2 linked regions of the Homo sapiens genome follow. The protein of the gene in region 1 purifies or fractionates together with the protein of each later gene. This does not show direct contact. Each region holds a gene or a part of one and is shown in the gene's direction. Other genes may lie near its edges.

Region 1 (8,524 bases):
AAATACATGATCAAAATTTGCTCTGACTTGATGTGTTAGATTGAGTGTAGCAAAGATGAAGAGGGAGGAGCCCAAGATGGTTCTGGACTTTAAGAGTAGGAAGACACTGGCGCCTTCAGCCAGGAACAGGGTAGTCCGGAAGAAACAATGGCTCACAGAAAGAGAGGTATCAAAACTCATTGTGATGGAGGAGGATACAGCAGTACATCCAAATGAAAACATCTAGCAGGCAGATGGGTCTGCTGACCTTGAGTTCAGGAGAAATGCTGGGCTGGCAAGACAAACTTGGAAGACATCCATGAAAAATACCAGTTAAAACATGGATAAATACCCTGAGGGAGTTCAGGAAGAAGAGGGGAGACCCTTAGGAAGTATGACCCTGGAAAATGAGGAAAGCAAGAGGAGTCAGAGAAGCTAAGAGAAGAATCAGGATTTGCAGAATCACGGGATTAAAAGTAGTTTTCTTTCAAGAGTGCCAAATCTGACAGATCAGGACAGAGAAAAGGACTTTGAAAGCAGCAGAGATAGGCACAGCAGACCTACAACAGAATAGCTGAGGAACCAAGGTATCCTTCTTCATAGTTTCTGTGGCCTAATCTAATGCAAGGCTAGTGGAAAAAGCTTGATAAATATTGACTACTTGAACCACACAATAGCTGCCACATCTTGGGCTGAATGACTTCTGCAAAGTGCCTGAGTCCCTTGCCATATTCCACTCCATGTTGAGTTTCTTAGCCTGTTCTAGAAGAGAAATTAGTAACCCTGGCTCTGAAGTAGTGGTAGGGAGAGCTCACAATCAAGAAGGAGCTGTTTCCTCAATCCTGCAGTCTTGGGCCTGAGGCTAACCTCTTGCCTGTCTTTGGGCCATCTAAGTGAGACGGAAATCCATGTCTGTTTTTAACAGCTCCAGAGGCAATTCCTCAACATCTCTTGGTAGTCTGTTCTATAGTCTCTGAAAACCCTTGCCAAGGTCAACTAGAAAATAGGCCCTTGTGACCCAGAGTTTCTAAAAAGCTCACTTGACAAATTGAGTAATGAGTCAATCAAGAGGAAAAATAAAGTCAGAGATCACCCTGCTTCTGGAAGGACCGAGTCATCTACAGCTAAAGGAGTGGATTGTAAAGGGGACACAGAGGCCAACATCCTGGAGAGTGCACAGCACAGCTCTAACTCAGGGAACTGAGGAGCTCTGTCATGCCCAAGAACATCAGAAGCTTGAAGTACAAAGGATCATTTGTTCTGTGCCCTGAGAATGAACTCCAATGAAGTTATTCACAAGGAATGATTGTTGTCAAGGTCTTGTCATTGGAGCTTTCCCATTTTCGTGGTGTCTAGAACTGATAACCCTTGAGATCATGTATAGTGCTCGAAGACAAAGGGCATCACTTAACATCAAGGAGCCACATTAAGAAAAGAGTGGGGGGACAAAGAGGTACAGTGCAGAAAGAATTAGAATAAAAACATATGCTTGCTGCAGGTATTGAGACAGAGCTTATAGGGAAGCTTATAGGGAATGTCAAGGGTCCATGTCTGTGAATCATGTTACATTTTATTGGCATTCTACTAAATATGATGTATGGGAAATGTTGTATTGGATTTTTAAGAATACTTTTAGTCATTCAAATGTTTATTGAGCAGCACCTAGGTGCCACGCACTAGGCTGGGCAACAGGGCACGATGGTGCATTCTCTTGAGGAGTGAACAGCTTATTGGGAGAGACAAGTGTGAGCAAGGAACTGTGAAACAGCTTTAAAGGTGTTAATAGAAGCAAGGGACTTACCATGAGGAGACAGAAAGAGAAACTTAGAAGAGCAGCACAGAGAAACTGTTGCAAATTCTGGGGATTTCATTTGAGCTACAGATAGCCCTGCATTGGCATTTGCAGACTGAATATGCATGAATGATAAAAACCCCCAGTGAGTAATCCAAAAGGTCCCTGTCATGAGGTAATTTGCTGAGACACAAATTTGAATGGGGCTGCCAGGAGGCCAGAGTGTACTTGCCAGCCACTCAGCTAGTGAATGACCACTCCTAACACTGGCATTTGTGTCCCAGTACCACTTAGCTCTCCTTACTTTCTCATCGACATCCGCACAATAATTCTCATACTGTGATCAATTTTTTCTTCACAGAGTCAGGGAAATAGGGCGTTAATAAGGTAAAGATATAAGGTAATGAAGTAAGAAGTTTATTTTAATGGCAAAATTTATTTAAGTAGCTTTAGAAATTACTTTGGCCCCATATTCATAGAACCATTAAGAGTCTAAAAAGATTCTTTACATTTTTCAGCTACACTTTACCGTACTTTATGGTGGAAATTATATGCCATGATGACATTCATGATTTTGGAGACTCACCAAGGTCATGGATGAACCCTCTGAGAATGTCAAGGGTCCAAGTCCATGAATAATGTTACATTTTATTGGCTTTACTAAATATAACAAAATCTTATTTTAAGTTTGAAAAATAAGATATTCTTCCTTATGTGATTTCCCTATATTTTGGGAAAGGCTGCCATTCCCCTCCCCGTTTATGAAGGTTTAACATGTGTCACCAGAAGACAAAGGAGTTATTTATCCACAAAACTGCAGCCTGACAAGCAACTCAAATTAAGAAACATAACTACATTCCCCAATGAAATGCTTTCCTTTTGGTCTATTGCCTGGAACCTAATAACCACTGAAACTCAAACTCTGACCCCACCCTGCCCCCCAAATACCTCCAAGAACCTCGAACTTAACATGACATCACCCACAGTCCCAAGCTGCTTCCCCTTCTATCACCTTGTTCAGTTACCAAGTAAATACATTTACCTCCTAAGTGATTCTTAAATGCAAATGCAGCCAGGCCTCTCCAGCCCCACAGCACTGCCCCAAGCTAGCCGAGGGTCAAAGTATCTGTCATCACAATATTCTGAAACGCTGCCTCCTCTATTCTCTATATGGATGCAGAGTAATTTTTCTCAAAATGCATGGCTTGCCTTCATTGGCTTCCACTGAAGTTTAAGATAAGGTCCTATCAAGAGAAGACACTGGGCCCTACTAGAGGGTGAAGGGTAGGAGGAGGCAGAGGATAAAAAAAAAATACCTATTGGGTACTATCCTCATTACCAGGGTGATAAAATAATCTGTCCAACAAACCCCTATGACATGCAATTTACCTATATAACAAACCTGCACCTGTACCTCTGAACCTAAAAGTTAAAAAAATTATTCACCAAACCCAGTGATCAAGGTTAATAACACCAGTAAAAAGTCATATTGCTATCATGTACCCCTGACATAATGCAATGAGAAGGCACTTCATCTTCATGGTATTCATCCCCCAAATCCAAAACCCTGGTCTAATCATGAGGAAACATCAGATAAATGCAAATGAGGAACAATTCTACAGAATATCTGACCAGTCCTCTTTAAAAATGTCAAGGTCATGAAAAACAGAGAAAGACTGAGAAGCTGTCACAGATTGAGAAGAATAAGGAGATGTAATGACTAAATGCAACATCATATCTTGGATTAGATTCTAGAGAAAAAAAGACATTAGTGGAAAAACTAGTAAAATCAAAATAAAGTCTGTAGTCTTAATTTTAAAAAGAAAAAAGATATGGTCTATCAACAACCAATTGATTCTTGGACAGTGATTCTGATGCCCATGGTCGACACATAACACCTTGAGAAATGCCTTGACTGTGAGTTGTTTCTCCCCCTCAGTACAGGATGAGTTCTTTCATATCTCTATGCATTTTGCATTTGCCAAATGCTGGTCCTGTACTACTCATTCACCTTTCTCTTTTCAGTGAGACTCTACAGTCTGTCAGTATTCAATTTAAATGTCACTACTTGAGCAAAGTCACACGTAAATCTCTCAGTGGCCAGAGAGCCACTGAGTGGCTCTCTGACCACTGAGGGATTTACATGTGGCCAGAGATTTACATGTCTGGCCTTCCACGGCACTGGATACACAACCCCACTAAAGCAGGTGTCACAGTTTACTATAATAACTTGTTAACAGGTTTATTTTCTCCAGTGATCCATGTGCTCTTTTTCAACTTTGAATCCCTAGTACCTAGCACTATGTTTGGCTCCTGCCAGGCAGGCAGTCAGCCTTTGCTGAATGAAAGGACCAGTGATTGAGGTCTGTGGCTACACGGTAAAATGAGAGAGACGAGTCATCAAAGGGAAAAACTGCTTTTTTGTTAACTATAAAGTGAACCAAGGTGTCAGAACAGTTAAAACAAGGATGAAGAGTGCTTTTAGATCTCAATCAATTTTTAAATTACTCGTCACACCTGTCCTAGCTAAAGACTAACTCTAGCACCTCCTGCGGCCTGTTAGTCAGTATTTCACACTTGGGCAGCAGATCCAGCAAATGTTCAATGATCGCAGAAGAAATACTTAGAAGCTATTGGCTTTGAAAATAAAAATGTAAGAAGATGCCTAGTAAAAGCATCTGCTAAATATTCTTCCTGTTTGGCACATTAGACTGCAGTATCAGACACATGACCGTGGTCATACTGTACACAATGCCCAATGTCTGCCAAAACTCTGGCATATGAGAGACTTAGTGCTGGAGTACGGAGGGATTCTTCCGGTATCCCCACTACACACAGTGGTGGAAAGAAGAGCTTCCAGAACAAACCCAGTCAGGCAAAGAGGCAAATACACTGCATTTAGTAACGCTGCTGGAGCCCGCCCTTCACCCTTTCTGAAGGTAGGATACTAAAAGGGCTCAAGCCTAAATCTAATCCAACAAGCTATATTCTGAATAACGACCAATCTCTGATAAAGCTGTTCCCCTAACCCTTCTGCTGCCCGAAACACTCACTCTACAGCCCCTACTGGGCTACCGGGTTCCCCACTGGACTCTGGACAGCGCCGCGCCCTGCTCGGCCTCACCCACCCGGTGGCGCTTGGGCCCGCCCTAGTCCCCCACCCCCACCCCAGGGCACCACCTACCAGGGCCCCGCCCCGCCTCAGCCCCACGTGCGGGGCCCCACCCCGGCGCTAGCGGCCCTTTAAACACCCCCACCCTTACACATTACCCCCCCCCCACCCGGACGGCAGCCGAATAGGGACAAAACTCATGGCGTACAGCCAGTTTCCTCCGCGGAGCACGTCCTGTGCTGCTCCAGCCGTTGGGGCTCTCCACCCCGGGCCACAGCCTCCTGGCGCCCCCCGGGCCGAGGCAGCCGGGCCGAGGAGTGTCGGTGTGGTCCGGCTACGGGGCGGGGCCGGCGGGAGCTCCGGTCGCCGCCGCCGCCGCTGCTGCCTCCGCCTGCCTCTTGGGCCGCCCGCTCGCCCGCCGCTGGGTGCGCTGCACGCGGGGGGCAGCCGTGGTGCAGAGGTTCATGCAGCGGCGGCGGCGGCGGCGGCTGCTGCTGCTGCCGCCGCGGAGGCAGACAGACCGGGCGCTGCCACCGCCGCCCTCCCCCGGCTCCATGCCGCCGCCGCTGCCGCCTCCTCCTCTCCGGCGAGGGGCGGGGGGCTCCGGCCCGGGGTGGGCACCATTCCTCGCAGCGCCGCTCCCCTCCCTGCCCTCCGCCCGGGCGCTGGAGCCGGCGAGGGCACCCGCCGCCTCCTAGGAGTGCACCCTCCGCGCGCCCTGCCGGAGCGAGGGGGCGGGCGTGGGCGGACGTCGGGGCAGCGGGGACCCCGCGCGGCTGCAAGAGGAGGGGGCTTCCCCAAGGATGCCCGGCGGCTCCCCGCTCCTAGGTGCGAGCTGAGTCTGACCGGGAGCGAGCGGCGCGTCGCCATGCCGGCGTGACGGGCGCCCCCGGCTGCCCGCGCGGGCCCCCGCGCTGCCCCACGCCGCGCCGTGCCGGCACCGGGCTGCAGGATGGGCTGTATCCAAAGCATCACCTGCAAGGCGCGGATCCGGCGCGAGAACATCGTGGTGTACGATGTGTGCGCCACCATCGACCAGTGCCCCACGCGCATCGAGGAGACCTCGCCCATCGTCCTGCGCTACAAGACCCCCTACTTCAAAGCCTCCGCCCGCGTGGTCATGCCCCCCATCCCCCGCCACGAGACCTGGGTGGTGGGCTGGATTCAGGCGTGCAATCAGATGGAGTTCTTCAACACCTACAGCGACCTGGGCATGTAAGCGACTCGCCGCGCGGCACGGGAGCGGACTCTGGGCCCCCAGCTCTGCTTGCCACCTTGACCCCCCTCCCCAGCTCCTTCCTACTGCTGTCCCCATCGTCTTTCTAAACCTTCCTCCCGCCTCCTCTCCCACCTCCCTCCTCCCTACGCTTTTGTTTCAGTGACAGGGCGGGTGTAGGGAGGCTCCTTGCGAAGGCATTTTCTCGTGGTTTGCTTCTGACTTCCCAGAAACGCGAGGAGAAAGGTGCGGGGCGGGAAGAACGCGACAAGGAGGGTTCGAGAGGCGGAGGTGGGGATGGCTGGCGAGTGCCTGGCGAGTTTCAGGGCGCCGTCTGTGCTTTGTGGGGCTCCCCGGGAAGAGTTTGGGGGAAACCATAGAGGAGTGGAGTGGAGTGCCGGGGGCGCATGGGCTGTGCCGCGCGTCCTTTGGAGAAACCGGAGCGGGCTTGGAAGAGCAGGTCCCGGGCATCCGAGCGGGAGTTGGTAGTTCTGTCCTTGCCCTCGCGACTGTTGAAGTTTCGAACCCTTGTCCCCCGGGCCAGGGAGCCCGGAGGCGTTTCCGTCTGGAACCACAAGCCGGACACAGTTGCCTCTCTGTTTCCGCGCCCCCTGGACCAGTTCTGGTGGGGAGCTGGAAGGCACCGAGTGCGTCCCGGCCAAGAAGGGCGGATAGCCTTGTGCGAGCAGCGTTCGGCTGGCGCGGCGCGGGGTGTTTCTTATGCTAAAGGAAAGGATGGATCTCTTGTCTGTCTAGGGTCCTTACTTTTTAAAACTTTCCTAATTGCGGCACTGGAAGGGATTCCCCTGGCGCCCACCGCCGAATTCTATCGGCGAGCTGGGAGCTCTCCAACTTTCAGCAGCGCCGGTTGGTGCGCGCCGGGCTTGGCTGCTGCGGTGAAGACCAAGGATCGCCGCGGCTCCTCAACCGCCAGGGGCCGCAGGCTACGGGCGGTCGCGTCCGGGACTTTTATATTTACCAAATTTTCATAACTCCGCACCCGCCTCCTTTCAGAACTAGACTCTGAGCAGGTGGCAACGACAATAGCTAAAAGGTTTAGGGCCTGCCTTCTACCTGCTGTTACAATGTAGGTCTAGAACACCCTAATTAGCCAGTCTGCAGCCTACAGGGAAACCCTTTTTCTGGAAATTCAACCTCATTTCACTTATTAATCTAAAACTCTAGAGCTCCCAAGGTTCGTCTATTTAATATGGATATGGGGTGGGGGAGTTCCCATTTTAAAAGGTCAAACCATCTTTTTAGCAGCAGTTTGCAGGCTTTTTATTGCACTCTGAGAGCATGTCAGTTAACACTAGTCATAGGCGCTAAAAGAAATTTGACAGGTCGTTGTTTTCCTTTTTTCCTCCCAAAGATTTTGCACTTTTCTCTTTAAGCACAAAAGCTTAATCCTTGAGAAAACTCAATTCCTAGTGAAGAAATGTGAGGCCCAGTTTCCAATATGCCTCAGCACACTGTATTCTTCCAGAGAAGACAGCTAGATGTGAGAAATGGGGGATATTTTATTTGGGGCGAATCATGCCATTTAAAAACTGACATACCCTCAAAAGAATGATTATATGTGAACACATGTGTCTCTTAAAACTGCTTTTTAAAATAAATCCATTGTTTCCAGCCAAGTCAGAGAAAGCCACAGGCAGGGCAAGAGCCCTTCCTCTCATTTCCCTGGCCTCACCCTGATGGCAGTGGGTTGCTGGAGGACAGCAAGTGCTCCCCACAGCAGCCTGGGGCCCCTGGTAGAGGAAGCCAGGAGTGACTGTGCAGAAGCAGCCTCACTTTTCCCAAGACTGCACAGCGGAACTCTCTGTTGCCTCAAATCTCTTATGAATAAGTAAAAGCAAATATATAAATACAGAATTATTTCCGTAAAACTTACTTTACCTTAGGAGAAGTCAAGTTGAGATATAAACAGACATGGTAGTTGAACTTCCTGGAATCTATAGGGAAGGTATGTCCTCACTGGAACCAACTTTAATGGATATGAATCAGTGACAGGATTCCTGACCCTTCCCCACTGAATCCTTGCATTTGGGATTTGGAAAGTGGTTTTGTTTTTAAACTGCCACTTTTGATATTTTAAGATTCTTGGTTTTCATGTAGATGTAGGAGAGCAAAAATAGACCCCCAATAAATCATAAAGCATATTATTATAGATTTGTGTCCACAGTCTACCTGTTTCTTCATGGTTGCAATAATTGCTATGTGTTAAAGGCCACTTTGGAGCCCAAATTTGAATGAACCAATTTCCACAAGATATTTATGCCTGGAAAATTTTGCTAGTGTAAACTTTTTAATGGGAATTCATATTGCATGAAAGTTGCTGCAGTCTATTAGTTATTATGTCTACTTTAGCCAATATCTGGATTGTAAAAAATAGCATGGAGTGATTTTTCACCTCTGTGCAGTG
Region 2 (7,522 bases), on another chromosome or scaffold:
TATGAGAAACACTGAAGGAACTGATGGTATTTAGCTGCCTTCAAGATGAATCGATTTGTTTAATCAGTCAGCAGCTATTTATTGAATACTTCTGGATGTGTTTTTGGATGTCTGTACTGTTAGGCGCTTGGGATACAGAAATGAAAAACATTCCCTGTTCTCAAGAAAATTGTAGACGAGTAGGGAGATAACACAAGTAAATAATGATTAGAATATAATGTGATTGATTCCCTAATAAAGAAAAGCACAAAGCATTATTGGAACAGAGGGGCAGGGAAATTGGCAAGGCCAGAAGACTTCTCACAGGAGGTAAATCTTTGAGTTTGAATTTGTTTATGTTCCCAAGGGATAGAAAGAACTAGGACCAATGGTTAGTTATGATGGGAGACAGATTTTTGACTCAATGTGAAGACCTCATTAAATAAAAGCTTTCTAAAGATTAGTTTTGTAAAGAAACAAGGTTTCTTTTACTGGAGATATAAAAAAATGTAGACTTGCTGACGACTTTATGGAGGGATTTAAGCATTAGGGGATAGATGGGCTACGTGACTGTGACACCTTACAACCTTCAGAGTTTGTCATTCTGATTCTTAGCTACAGTTTCCCAGAAATGAATATTCTCCCATGTTTGAAGAGGAGAACACATTTGCACTATTATAATAAATACATTATTTGGATGTAAATTTAAAATAATGGCAATAAAATTAAATATACAGTGTATATAAAATACATTTATAACTATAAATAAATTAACCAGAGATAATAAATAAGTGATTTATTTACTTCGATCCTAGTACCTTCTTTAGAACTTTTACTTCTTTTTTCAGGCTGATAAGAATGGACCTAGTTTTCAAACTGCTTTTGGAAAAACTGAACAAACAGTTAAGGTAAGAAATTCTGTTAAAGGAATTTATCCTGTTTGAAAATAACCTAGTCTCAAAGCCTCTAGTATCCTTTGAGGAGTATTGACTAGGTAATTTGATGACATAATCAAGGACCAATAAGAGTTATAAATAACCTCATCGATACTTACCATGCTCTGTGTTTATGATTCAGCTTAGTAAAGCTGTTTTGTTATATCACATCCTAGCGTCCTTAAAAGTTTCAGTATTATTTCTAAATTAGGGAATGCTGTAGACAAAAGAACTTTGATGTACAAAGAACTAAAAGGTTTCTAAACTAGCCAAACTAGATACCATTGTTTGATGTACAGGTGAAAAAGTGTATAAAATATAAGGAGACATGTTGAGCACTTTTGAAGTCAAAGCACTACTTACGTAGTAGCTTAGAGTAAGAGGGGCAAAATGTACTTATGGGTAACTAAAAAGAAAAGGAGAGAGGCGAGTTTTAGCTCACACTTTTTTGAGAGATGGGGAAATCTGTTTTAATATTGTGAACCTTTTATTGTTTTTATATCCATTTAGTGTTATGAGAAAATGAAAAGAAATTCATTTTTATAAACAGAGCTTTTTATTTTATATTAATTTGCTATTAGAAAACTACCCATTCTTGAAATCAATTTGTATTGCTATTTTAGCTTCCTAGAGTGATTGCTTTAAAAAAAGTAGTACTTTTCCCCTACAAGTTCTATATTGTGTTTCTTTTTAAATGATAACACCATTATTGTGATTTGAAAAGGTCACTTAGTAACCCATTCATAATTGTCCTTTTTATATTTAAATTTCACGGATGCCACCTTTGAAGTCATTTCTAGACATAGTAGTAGCACATGGTGGTTCTGGGATTTCGCCTTTTGACTTATAATTTTATATAATCATAATTGTCCATTGAAGATCCAAGAAGCCGTCTGTATGTTGAATATCAGCATAGCCATGAGAAGCAGAGTATAGACTTCATAACCATTATGCTTTGGAAATGGAGTAATTAGGTTACTGTAATATTCTGATGTACCCCTGAAGTGTATAAGTGTAATTTTTCTCTGTATATTCCCTTTTTAAGGGGATTGTGAATCTTCCACTTTTTACTCTTCCTTCAGAGTGGTGGAAAGCAATGATGTAAGCCCACCTGAGAATCTTTTGGGTCTGTCGTGGAGACTACAGGTTATAATTGGCTGTGGAAAACTAATTTTCTCTTTAAAACATTTTTAGGTGGCCTTTTCATCTTTAAATCTGTTGCTGCAAACACAAGCTCTTGTCGCTTCTATTAATTACCTCACAACCATTATTCCATCTGATGATCAAAGCATAAGTGTTGCTAAGGAGGTACAAATTTCAACTGAAAAACAACAAAAAAATTCAACTCTGCCAAAAGGTATGAAACATACATTTTTGTTTTTTGTTAGCAAGGGTTTTAGAATTCTAAAGCTAAATGAGGAATACTAGAGACTATCTGACTCAGTCATTTAAATACCATTTTCCCCTTTTCTTCAAATTAAATTATATGCGAGCACCTGATGTATAAGGCAAATGTAATCAATACTGTTGTTTTTAAAAATGTTTCTTTTAGTTCTTATTTTGGTGGTGGTGTAGGAAGCCCTTAGGTAGGTAATAGGGGGAGAAGATCTGTATTTATACTGAGCTCTTCCTCCCCGCTCAGTGGCTCCTGAAGGGGCTTTATAAAGAGTTAGTCTTTCTTTCCATTTTACACATAAGGAAATTAAGGCTCAGAGACACAAAGGTAGGGAAGGGTTCAGGAGTAGCATCTAATTGGCCAAGAGCCCAGATTTTGGATCAGGAAGAACTCAGTTCACATCCTGATTTTGCTACTTCAACCATGTAACCTTAGACACATTATTTAACTTTTCTGAGGTTCAGTGTCCTTATTTATTTATTGTAGTTTTTTCTCTTGCTTTTAAATTATAAAAGTAATATCTCACTATTAAAAATGCAAACTTTACAGAATATATAAAGCAAAAAAAGTGTTTGAATCTTTAAGAGTTGGAGAATGTTATAATTTTTTTTAACATAACAGTGGTTCACTTAATATAGCGAATAAACCTTAAAAGAATGTAGATGACTAGAATCTCACCATGTGACAGATGCTTTGTTTTATTTTTAGCGATTGTATCCTCCAGAGATAGTGACATTATTGATTTCAGGCTATTTGCCAAGTTGAATGCTTTCTGTGTCATTGTTTGCAACGAAAAGAACAATATCGCCGAAATCAAGATTCAAGGTAAAAGTTCACACGGCATTGAAAATTGGCGAAAAGATAAACTTTTCCTTCTTTTTGTCTCTTTGCAATGCTAAAGAATGTACAAATAAAGGGCTCTAAGCTGTGAAACCTGAAAAGACGTAATTGGATTGTATGCTTCCTCTATTTGGGATATAGATATTGGTCAGAATCTGACCATCCCAATTGACCTCTACACATATCCTGGTGTTTGGGACCTTCCTGAGAGTTATCTAGGAAGTGGAAAAGGGATACTGATGTCAATGTAGGAATGCTATTGATGGGCTAGGAGAAGTGTCAGTCTAGATTTTAGGTGAAGGTCTGTGGACGTGCTTTCTAGTAACTTTTTAATCTTTTTTTTTTACCTTCATATGATTTTTATATATAATTATGTATTTGTCTTTATTTGTCTTTCCTTATGAAAAGCAATCTTATAATGGTGACAATATCTATGAGCCCATTATGTTCTTTTAGGTAAAAGCTGCCAAAACTCATCTAGCTTTTCCTCTGGCTTACTTTTACTAGCTTGTTGTGACCTGGTAGAGGTCAAGAATATGTTGAATATGTTTAATGAAATTTTTTAAGAACTTAAAAACTAGAAAACTAGGGGCTTTTTTCCTTTGTCCTTTCCAAACTGGCAGCGCATCTACTAGTCTGAATTTGATTTGTGAAACTTTTATAGTTTCCATGTAAATGACTGGATATAAGGTATAAAGGATAATTTACTTAAATCCTGAGATAATCTATTTGTACTAGATGTATTTCTTCCCCTGATTGAAAAGTCACATAATCATTGTTTAATGAATTTATAGGTTTTGGTGTTTATAAAACCAAAAAACTCTAATATTGCAACTTATTTATCCATTGGGAGTTGAAACATTGCTAAATTTAAAAAAGTCACCCCAAAATAAAATAATGTAATGGAAAGAAAGATCTTATTTATGGTAGGTCTGTAGAAATTATAATAATACACTCTTTTTTTCAGGACTGGATTCCTCCCTTTCTCTCCAGTCAAGAAAGCAGTCACTTTTTGCCCGACTAGAAAATATTATTGTCACAGATGTTGATCCAAAGACAGTTCATAAGAAAGTAGGTGATTGTAAACAGATAGTTAATATTCTTTAATGACTGAATATGAGCTTCTATTGTAAAATGTATTTTATTTTAAAAACATTAATGAAATATATTTCAATAGAAAAATTTTTTTATAAAGATTATAAATGTAAAGCCTTTTGTAAATGAGATTTTATTTTGTCATTACCTTCCCGGATAGAGTACATTCAAGTCTCTGTTTTTCAGGCTGTGTCAATAATGGGAAATGAAGTTTTCCGTTTTAATTTGGATTTGTATCCAGATGCTACTGAGGGGGATTTGTATACTGACATGTCCAAAGTGGATGGTGTGCTGTCTCTGAATGTTGGCTGTATTCAGATTGTCTATCTTCATAAATTCCTTATGTCACTTCTGGTAAAATAATTATTTGTATATTGATTTTTCAACTTTGAAATATTTTAAAAGTGTGATAATTATGATGGCAAATGTTATAAACCTTGGATTTTAGAGTGGGCATTATTTTAATTATATTTATGCGTGAATGTAGAGATCAAAACCCCTATTTAACAGTTGAAAAGTGAATCATTTAATGATTTTTGTCTAGAACAAATTATTTTTGCTACAATATAATGAAGCCAGATTCTTTAGTATAAAAATTATTGGAAAAAAATTTTTCTCTGTTCCTTAACCATATAACATTAGCTCAGTTCAGGCAGCTCATAGTTATAGATGGATTATCCGTAATTTCTTAATACTGCTAGAAAAATAGGGCTCAATGGAAAGTTAAATATTGGAAAAAAAAAGTTACCACATGTATGAAAAGAAGATAGTGTTATTATTGATGTGCCTGTATTCTCTTTGAATTTCTCTTTTTATGCTTTGTGTCCACAGAACTTCCTGAATAATTTCCAGACAGCCAAAGAGTCTCTGAGTGCTGCCACTGCCCAGGCTGCAGAAAGGGCTGCCACAAGTGTGAAAGATCTTGCCCAGAGGAGTTTTCGTGTTTCCATCAATATTGATTTGAAAGCACCGGTTATAGTCATCCCACAGTCTTCTATTTCCACCAATGCAGTAGTGGTAGATCTTGGGTTAATCAGAGTTCATAATCAGTTCAGTCTGGTGTCTGATGAAGACTACTTAAATCCTCCAGTAATTGATAGAATGGATGTGCAGCTAACAAAGCTTACACTTTATAGGTATGCTCTTTCAATAATTATGGATTTAAATATTATATTCATGATTTCCATGAAATTTTATGACTTGAAATTCCTACCCAACACAGTTTATTCAAATAAACTGTTCCATTACACGGAACAGTTTTTTTTATTGTTGTCATTGTTTTGTGTGTGTGTGTGTGTGTGTGTGTGTGTGTGTGTGTGTGTGTGTGTGTTTTGAGTTGGAGTCTTGGTCTGTCACCCAGGATGGAGTGCAGTGGCGTGATCTCGGCTCACTGCAACCTCTGCCTCCTGGGTTCAAGCAATCCTCCTGCCTCAGCCTCCCGAGTAGCTGGGACTATAGACATGTGCTACCATGCCTGGCTAATTTTTTTTGTATTTTTAATAGAAATGGGGTTTCACCATGTTGGCCAGGCTGGTCTCAAACTCCTCACCTCAGGTGATCCACCTGCTTTGGACCCCCAAAGTGCTGGGATTACAGGTGTGAGCCACCGCGCCTGGCCCAGAAGAGTTTTTTATTTTGTGTTTTGAGATGAAGTCTTGCTCTGTCGCCCAGGCTGGAGTGCAATGGTGCAGTCTTGGCTCACTGCAACTTCTGCATCCTGGATTCAAGTGATTCTCCTGCCTCAGCCTCCTGAGTAACTGGGACTATAGGCACGTGCCATCATGCCTGGCTAATTTTTTTGTATTTTTCGTTATAGAGATGGGGTTTCACCATGTTGGCCAGGCTAGTCTCAAACTCCTGATATCAGGTGTTCTGCCCATCTTGGCCTCCCAAAGTGCTGAGATTACAGGCATGAGCCATCGCACCAGGCCACCAGAACAGTTTTTTAATCAACTTTTGTTTTAAAAAATTTCAGACCTACAGAAAAATGGAAAAAAATAGTACTGTGAATGCACCTACATATCCTTCATCTAGATTCACCAGTTGTTTATATTTGCTTTAACCTATCTATAAACATATACATATTATTTAAAACATTTTTTGCTAAATCATTTGAGAATAGACATCTTTAACTTTTTGTCCCTAAATACTTTATCATATGTCTCCTATAAACAAGGACATTCATTCTCTTATATTAACTATGATATAATTCTAGAAATTTAATATCGATGTAATACTATAATCTGAAATTCAGTCAATATTCAGATTTTACCAGTTGTCCCATTATAATAATTCGCATTATAGGAATGTCCATTATAAAAATTTCTCCCTGATTCAGGATCACCCATAGCGTATAATTGTATTCTGTACTATTGAGGAAGATTTCTGTACTGACAGAAATTTATTTTGGAGTAGTTCTTCAGCTTTTCTTTGTCTTTTTATGACTACATGACTACTACTGTAGTTTTGAAGACTACAGTCCGGTTCCACTCACCTCTCAATTTGGTTGTGTCTGAGTGATTCCTCATGGTTTGATTGAACTTACACATTTTTGGCAGGCATGTTGTGTAAATTATTTTGTATCTTCAGTGCTCATACCAGGTGGCACATGAAATCTGTACATAATTCATTTTAAAATTATTTTCTACCCCATCCATGAAGATTTAATTATGTAGAATAAAAAATTAATGACTACAAGGCAAGTCTAGAAAATAATCCTAGAGAAAACCTTTATGAAATGCCTTGGAAAATGCTAACTCCTCTTGTTCACTTTGCCATCATTTTCTTCAGTCTCTGCACCAACATACCTATTAATCCTTGAACAACTGTATATGATGATTTTCTGTATTTCTTCAATGGTGTGGATTGCTTTTAAAAACTTATTCAATTTTTCACCTATCTACTGTTTAAAGAAAAAAGTTTTCTTAATGGTTCATTGTATATCACCTTTTAATTTGTCCCTTCTAGTGGATTATAGATTAATTATAGGTTCAGTTTTGAAAATACTCAAGCCACACTGTTTCAGATCAGTATTTAGAGCAGCAAATAACTGCTTGACTTTGCTTTTTTTTAATATGTTGCATTTCTACCCTATATCTATGCATTATGTAACATTTCTGTTTTTCGTAGGACAGTGATCCAGCCAGGCATCTACCATCCTGATATTCAGCTGTTGCACCCAATTAACTTGGAATTTCTTGTAAATCGGAATCTAGCTGCATCTTGGTACCACAAGGTGCCTGTTGTGGAAATTAAAGGACATCTTGATTCAATGAAT

The links.
Region 2: the proteins of FAM78B (region 1) and VPS13C purify together in Homo sapiens (affinity purification with mass spectrometry; 2 studies listed by BioGRID and IntAct, with this or other methods). This does not show direct contact.

Annotation. Positions count from the first base shown.
Region 1 is NC_000001.11:166,163,560-166,172,083, reverse strand, and holds the start of FAM78B (protein FAM78B), read left to right. Parts: upstream 1-5,082; 5' UTR 5,083-5,835; coding exon 5,836-6,098; exon of another isoform or gene 6,099-6,207; intron 6,208-8,524.
Region 2 is NC_000015.10:61,959,448-61,966,969, reverse strand, and holds part of VPS13C (intermembrane lipid transfer protein VPS13C), read left to right. Parts: intron 1-827; coding exon 828-887; intron 888-2,108; coding exon 2,109-2,271; intron 2,272-3,018; coding exon 3,019-3,135; intron 3,136-4,117; coding exon 4,118-4,221; intron 4,222-4,431; coding exon 4,432-4,599; intron 4,600-5,076; coding exon 5,077-5,381; intron 5,382-7,374; coding exon 7,375-7,522. UniProt on the Homo sapiens protein: Mediates the transfer of lipids between membranes at organelle contact sites. Necessary for proper mitochondrial function and maintenance of mitochondrial transmembrane potential.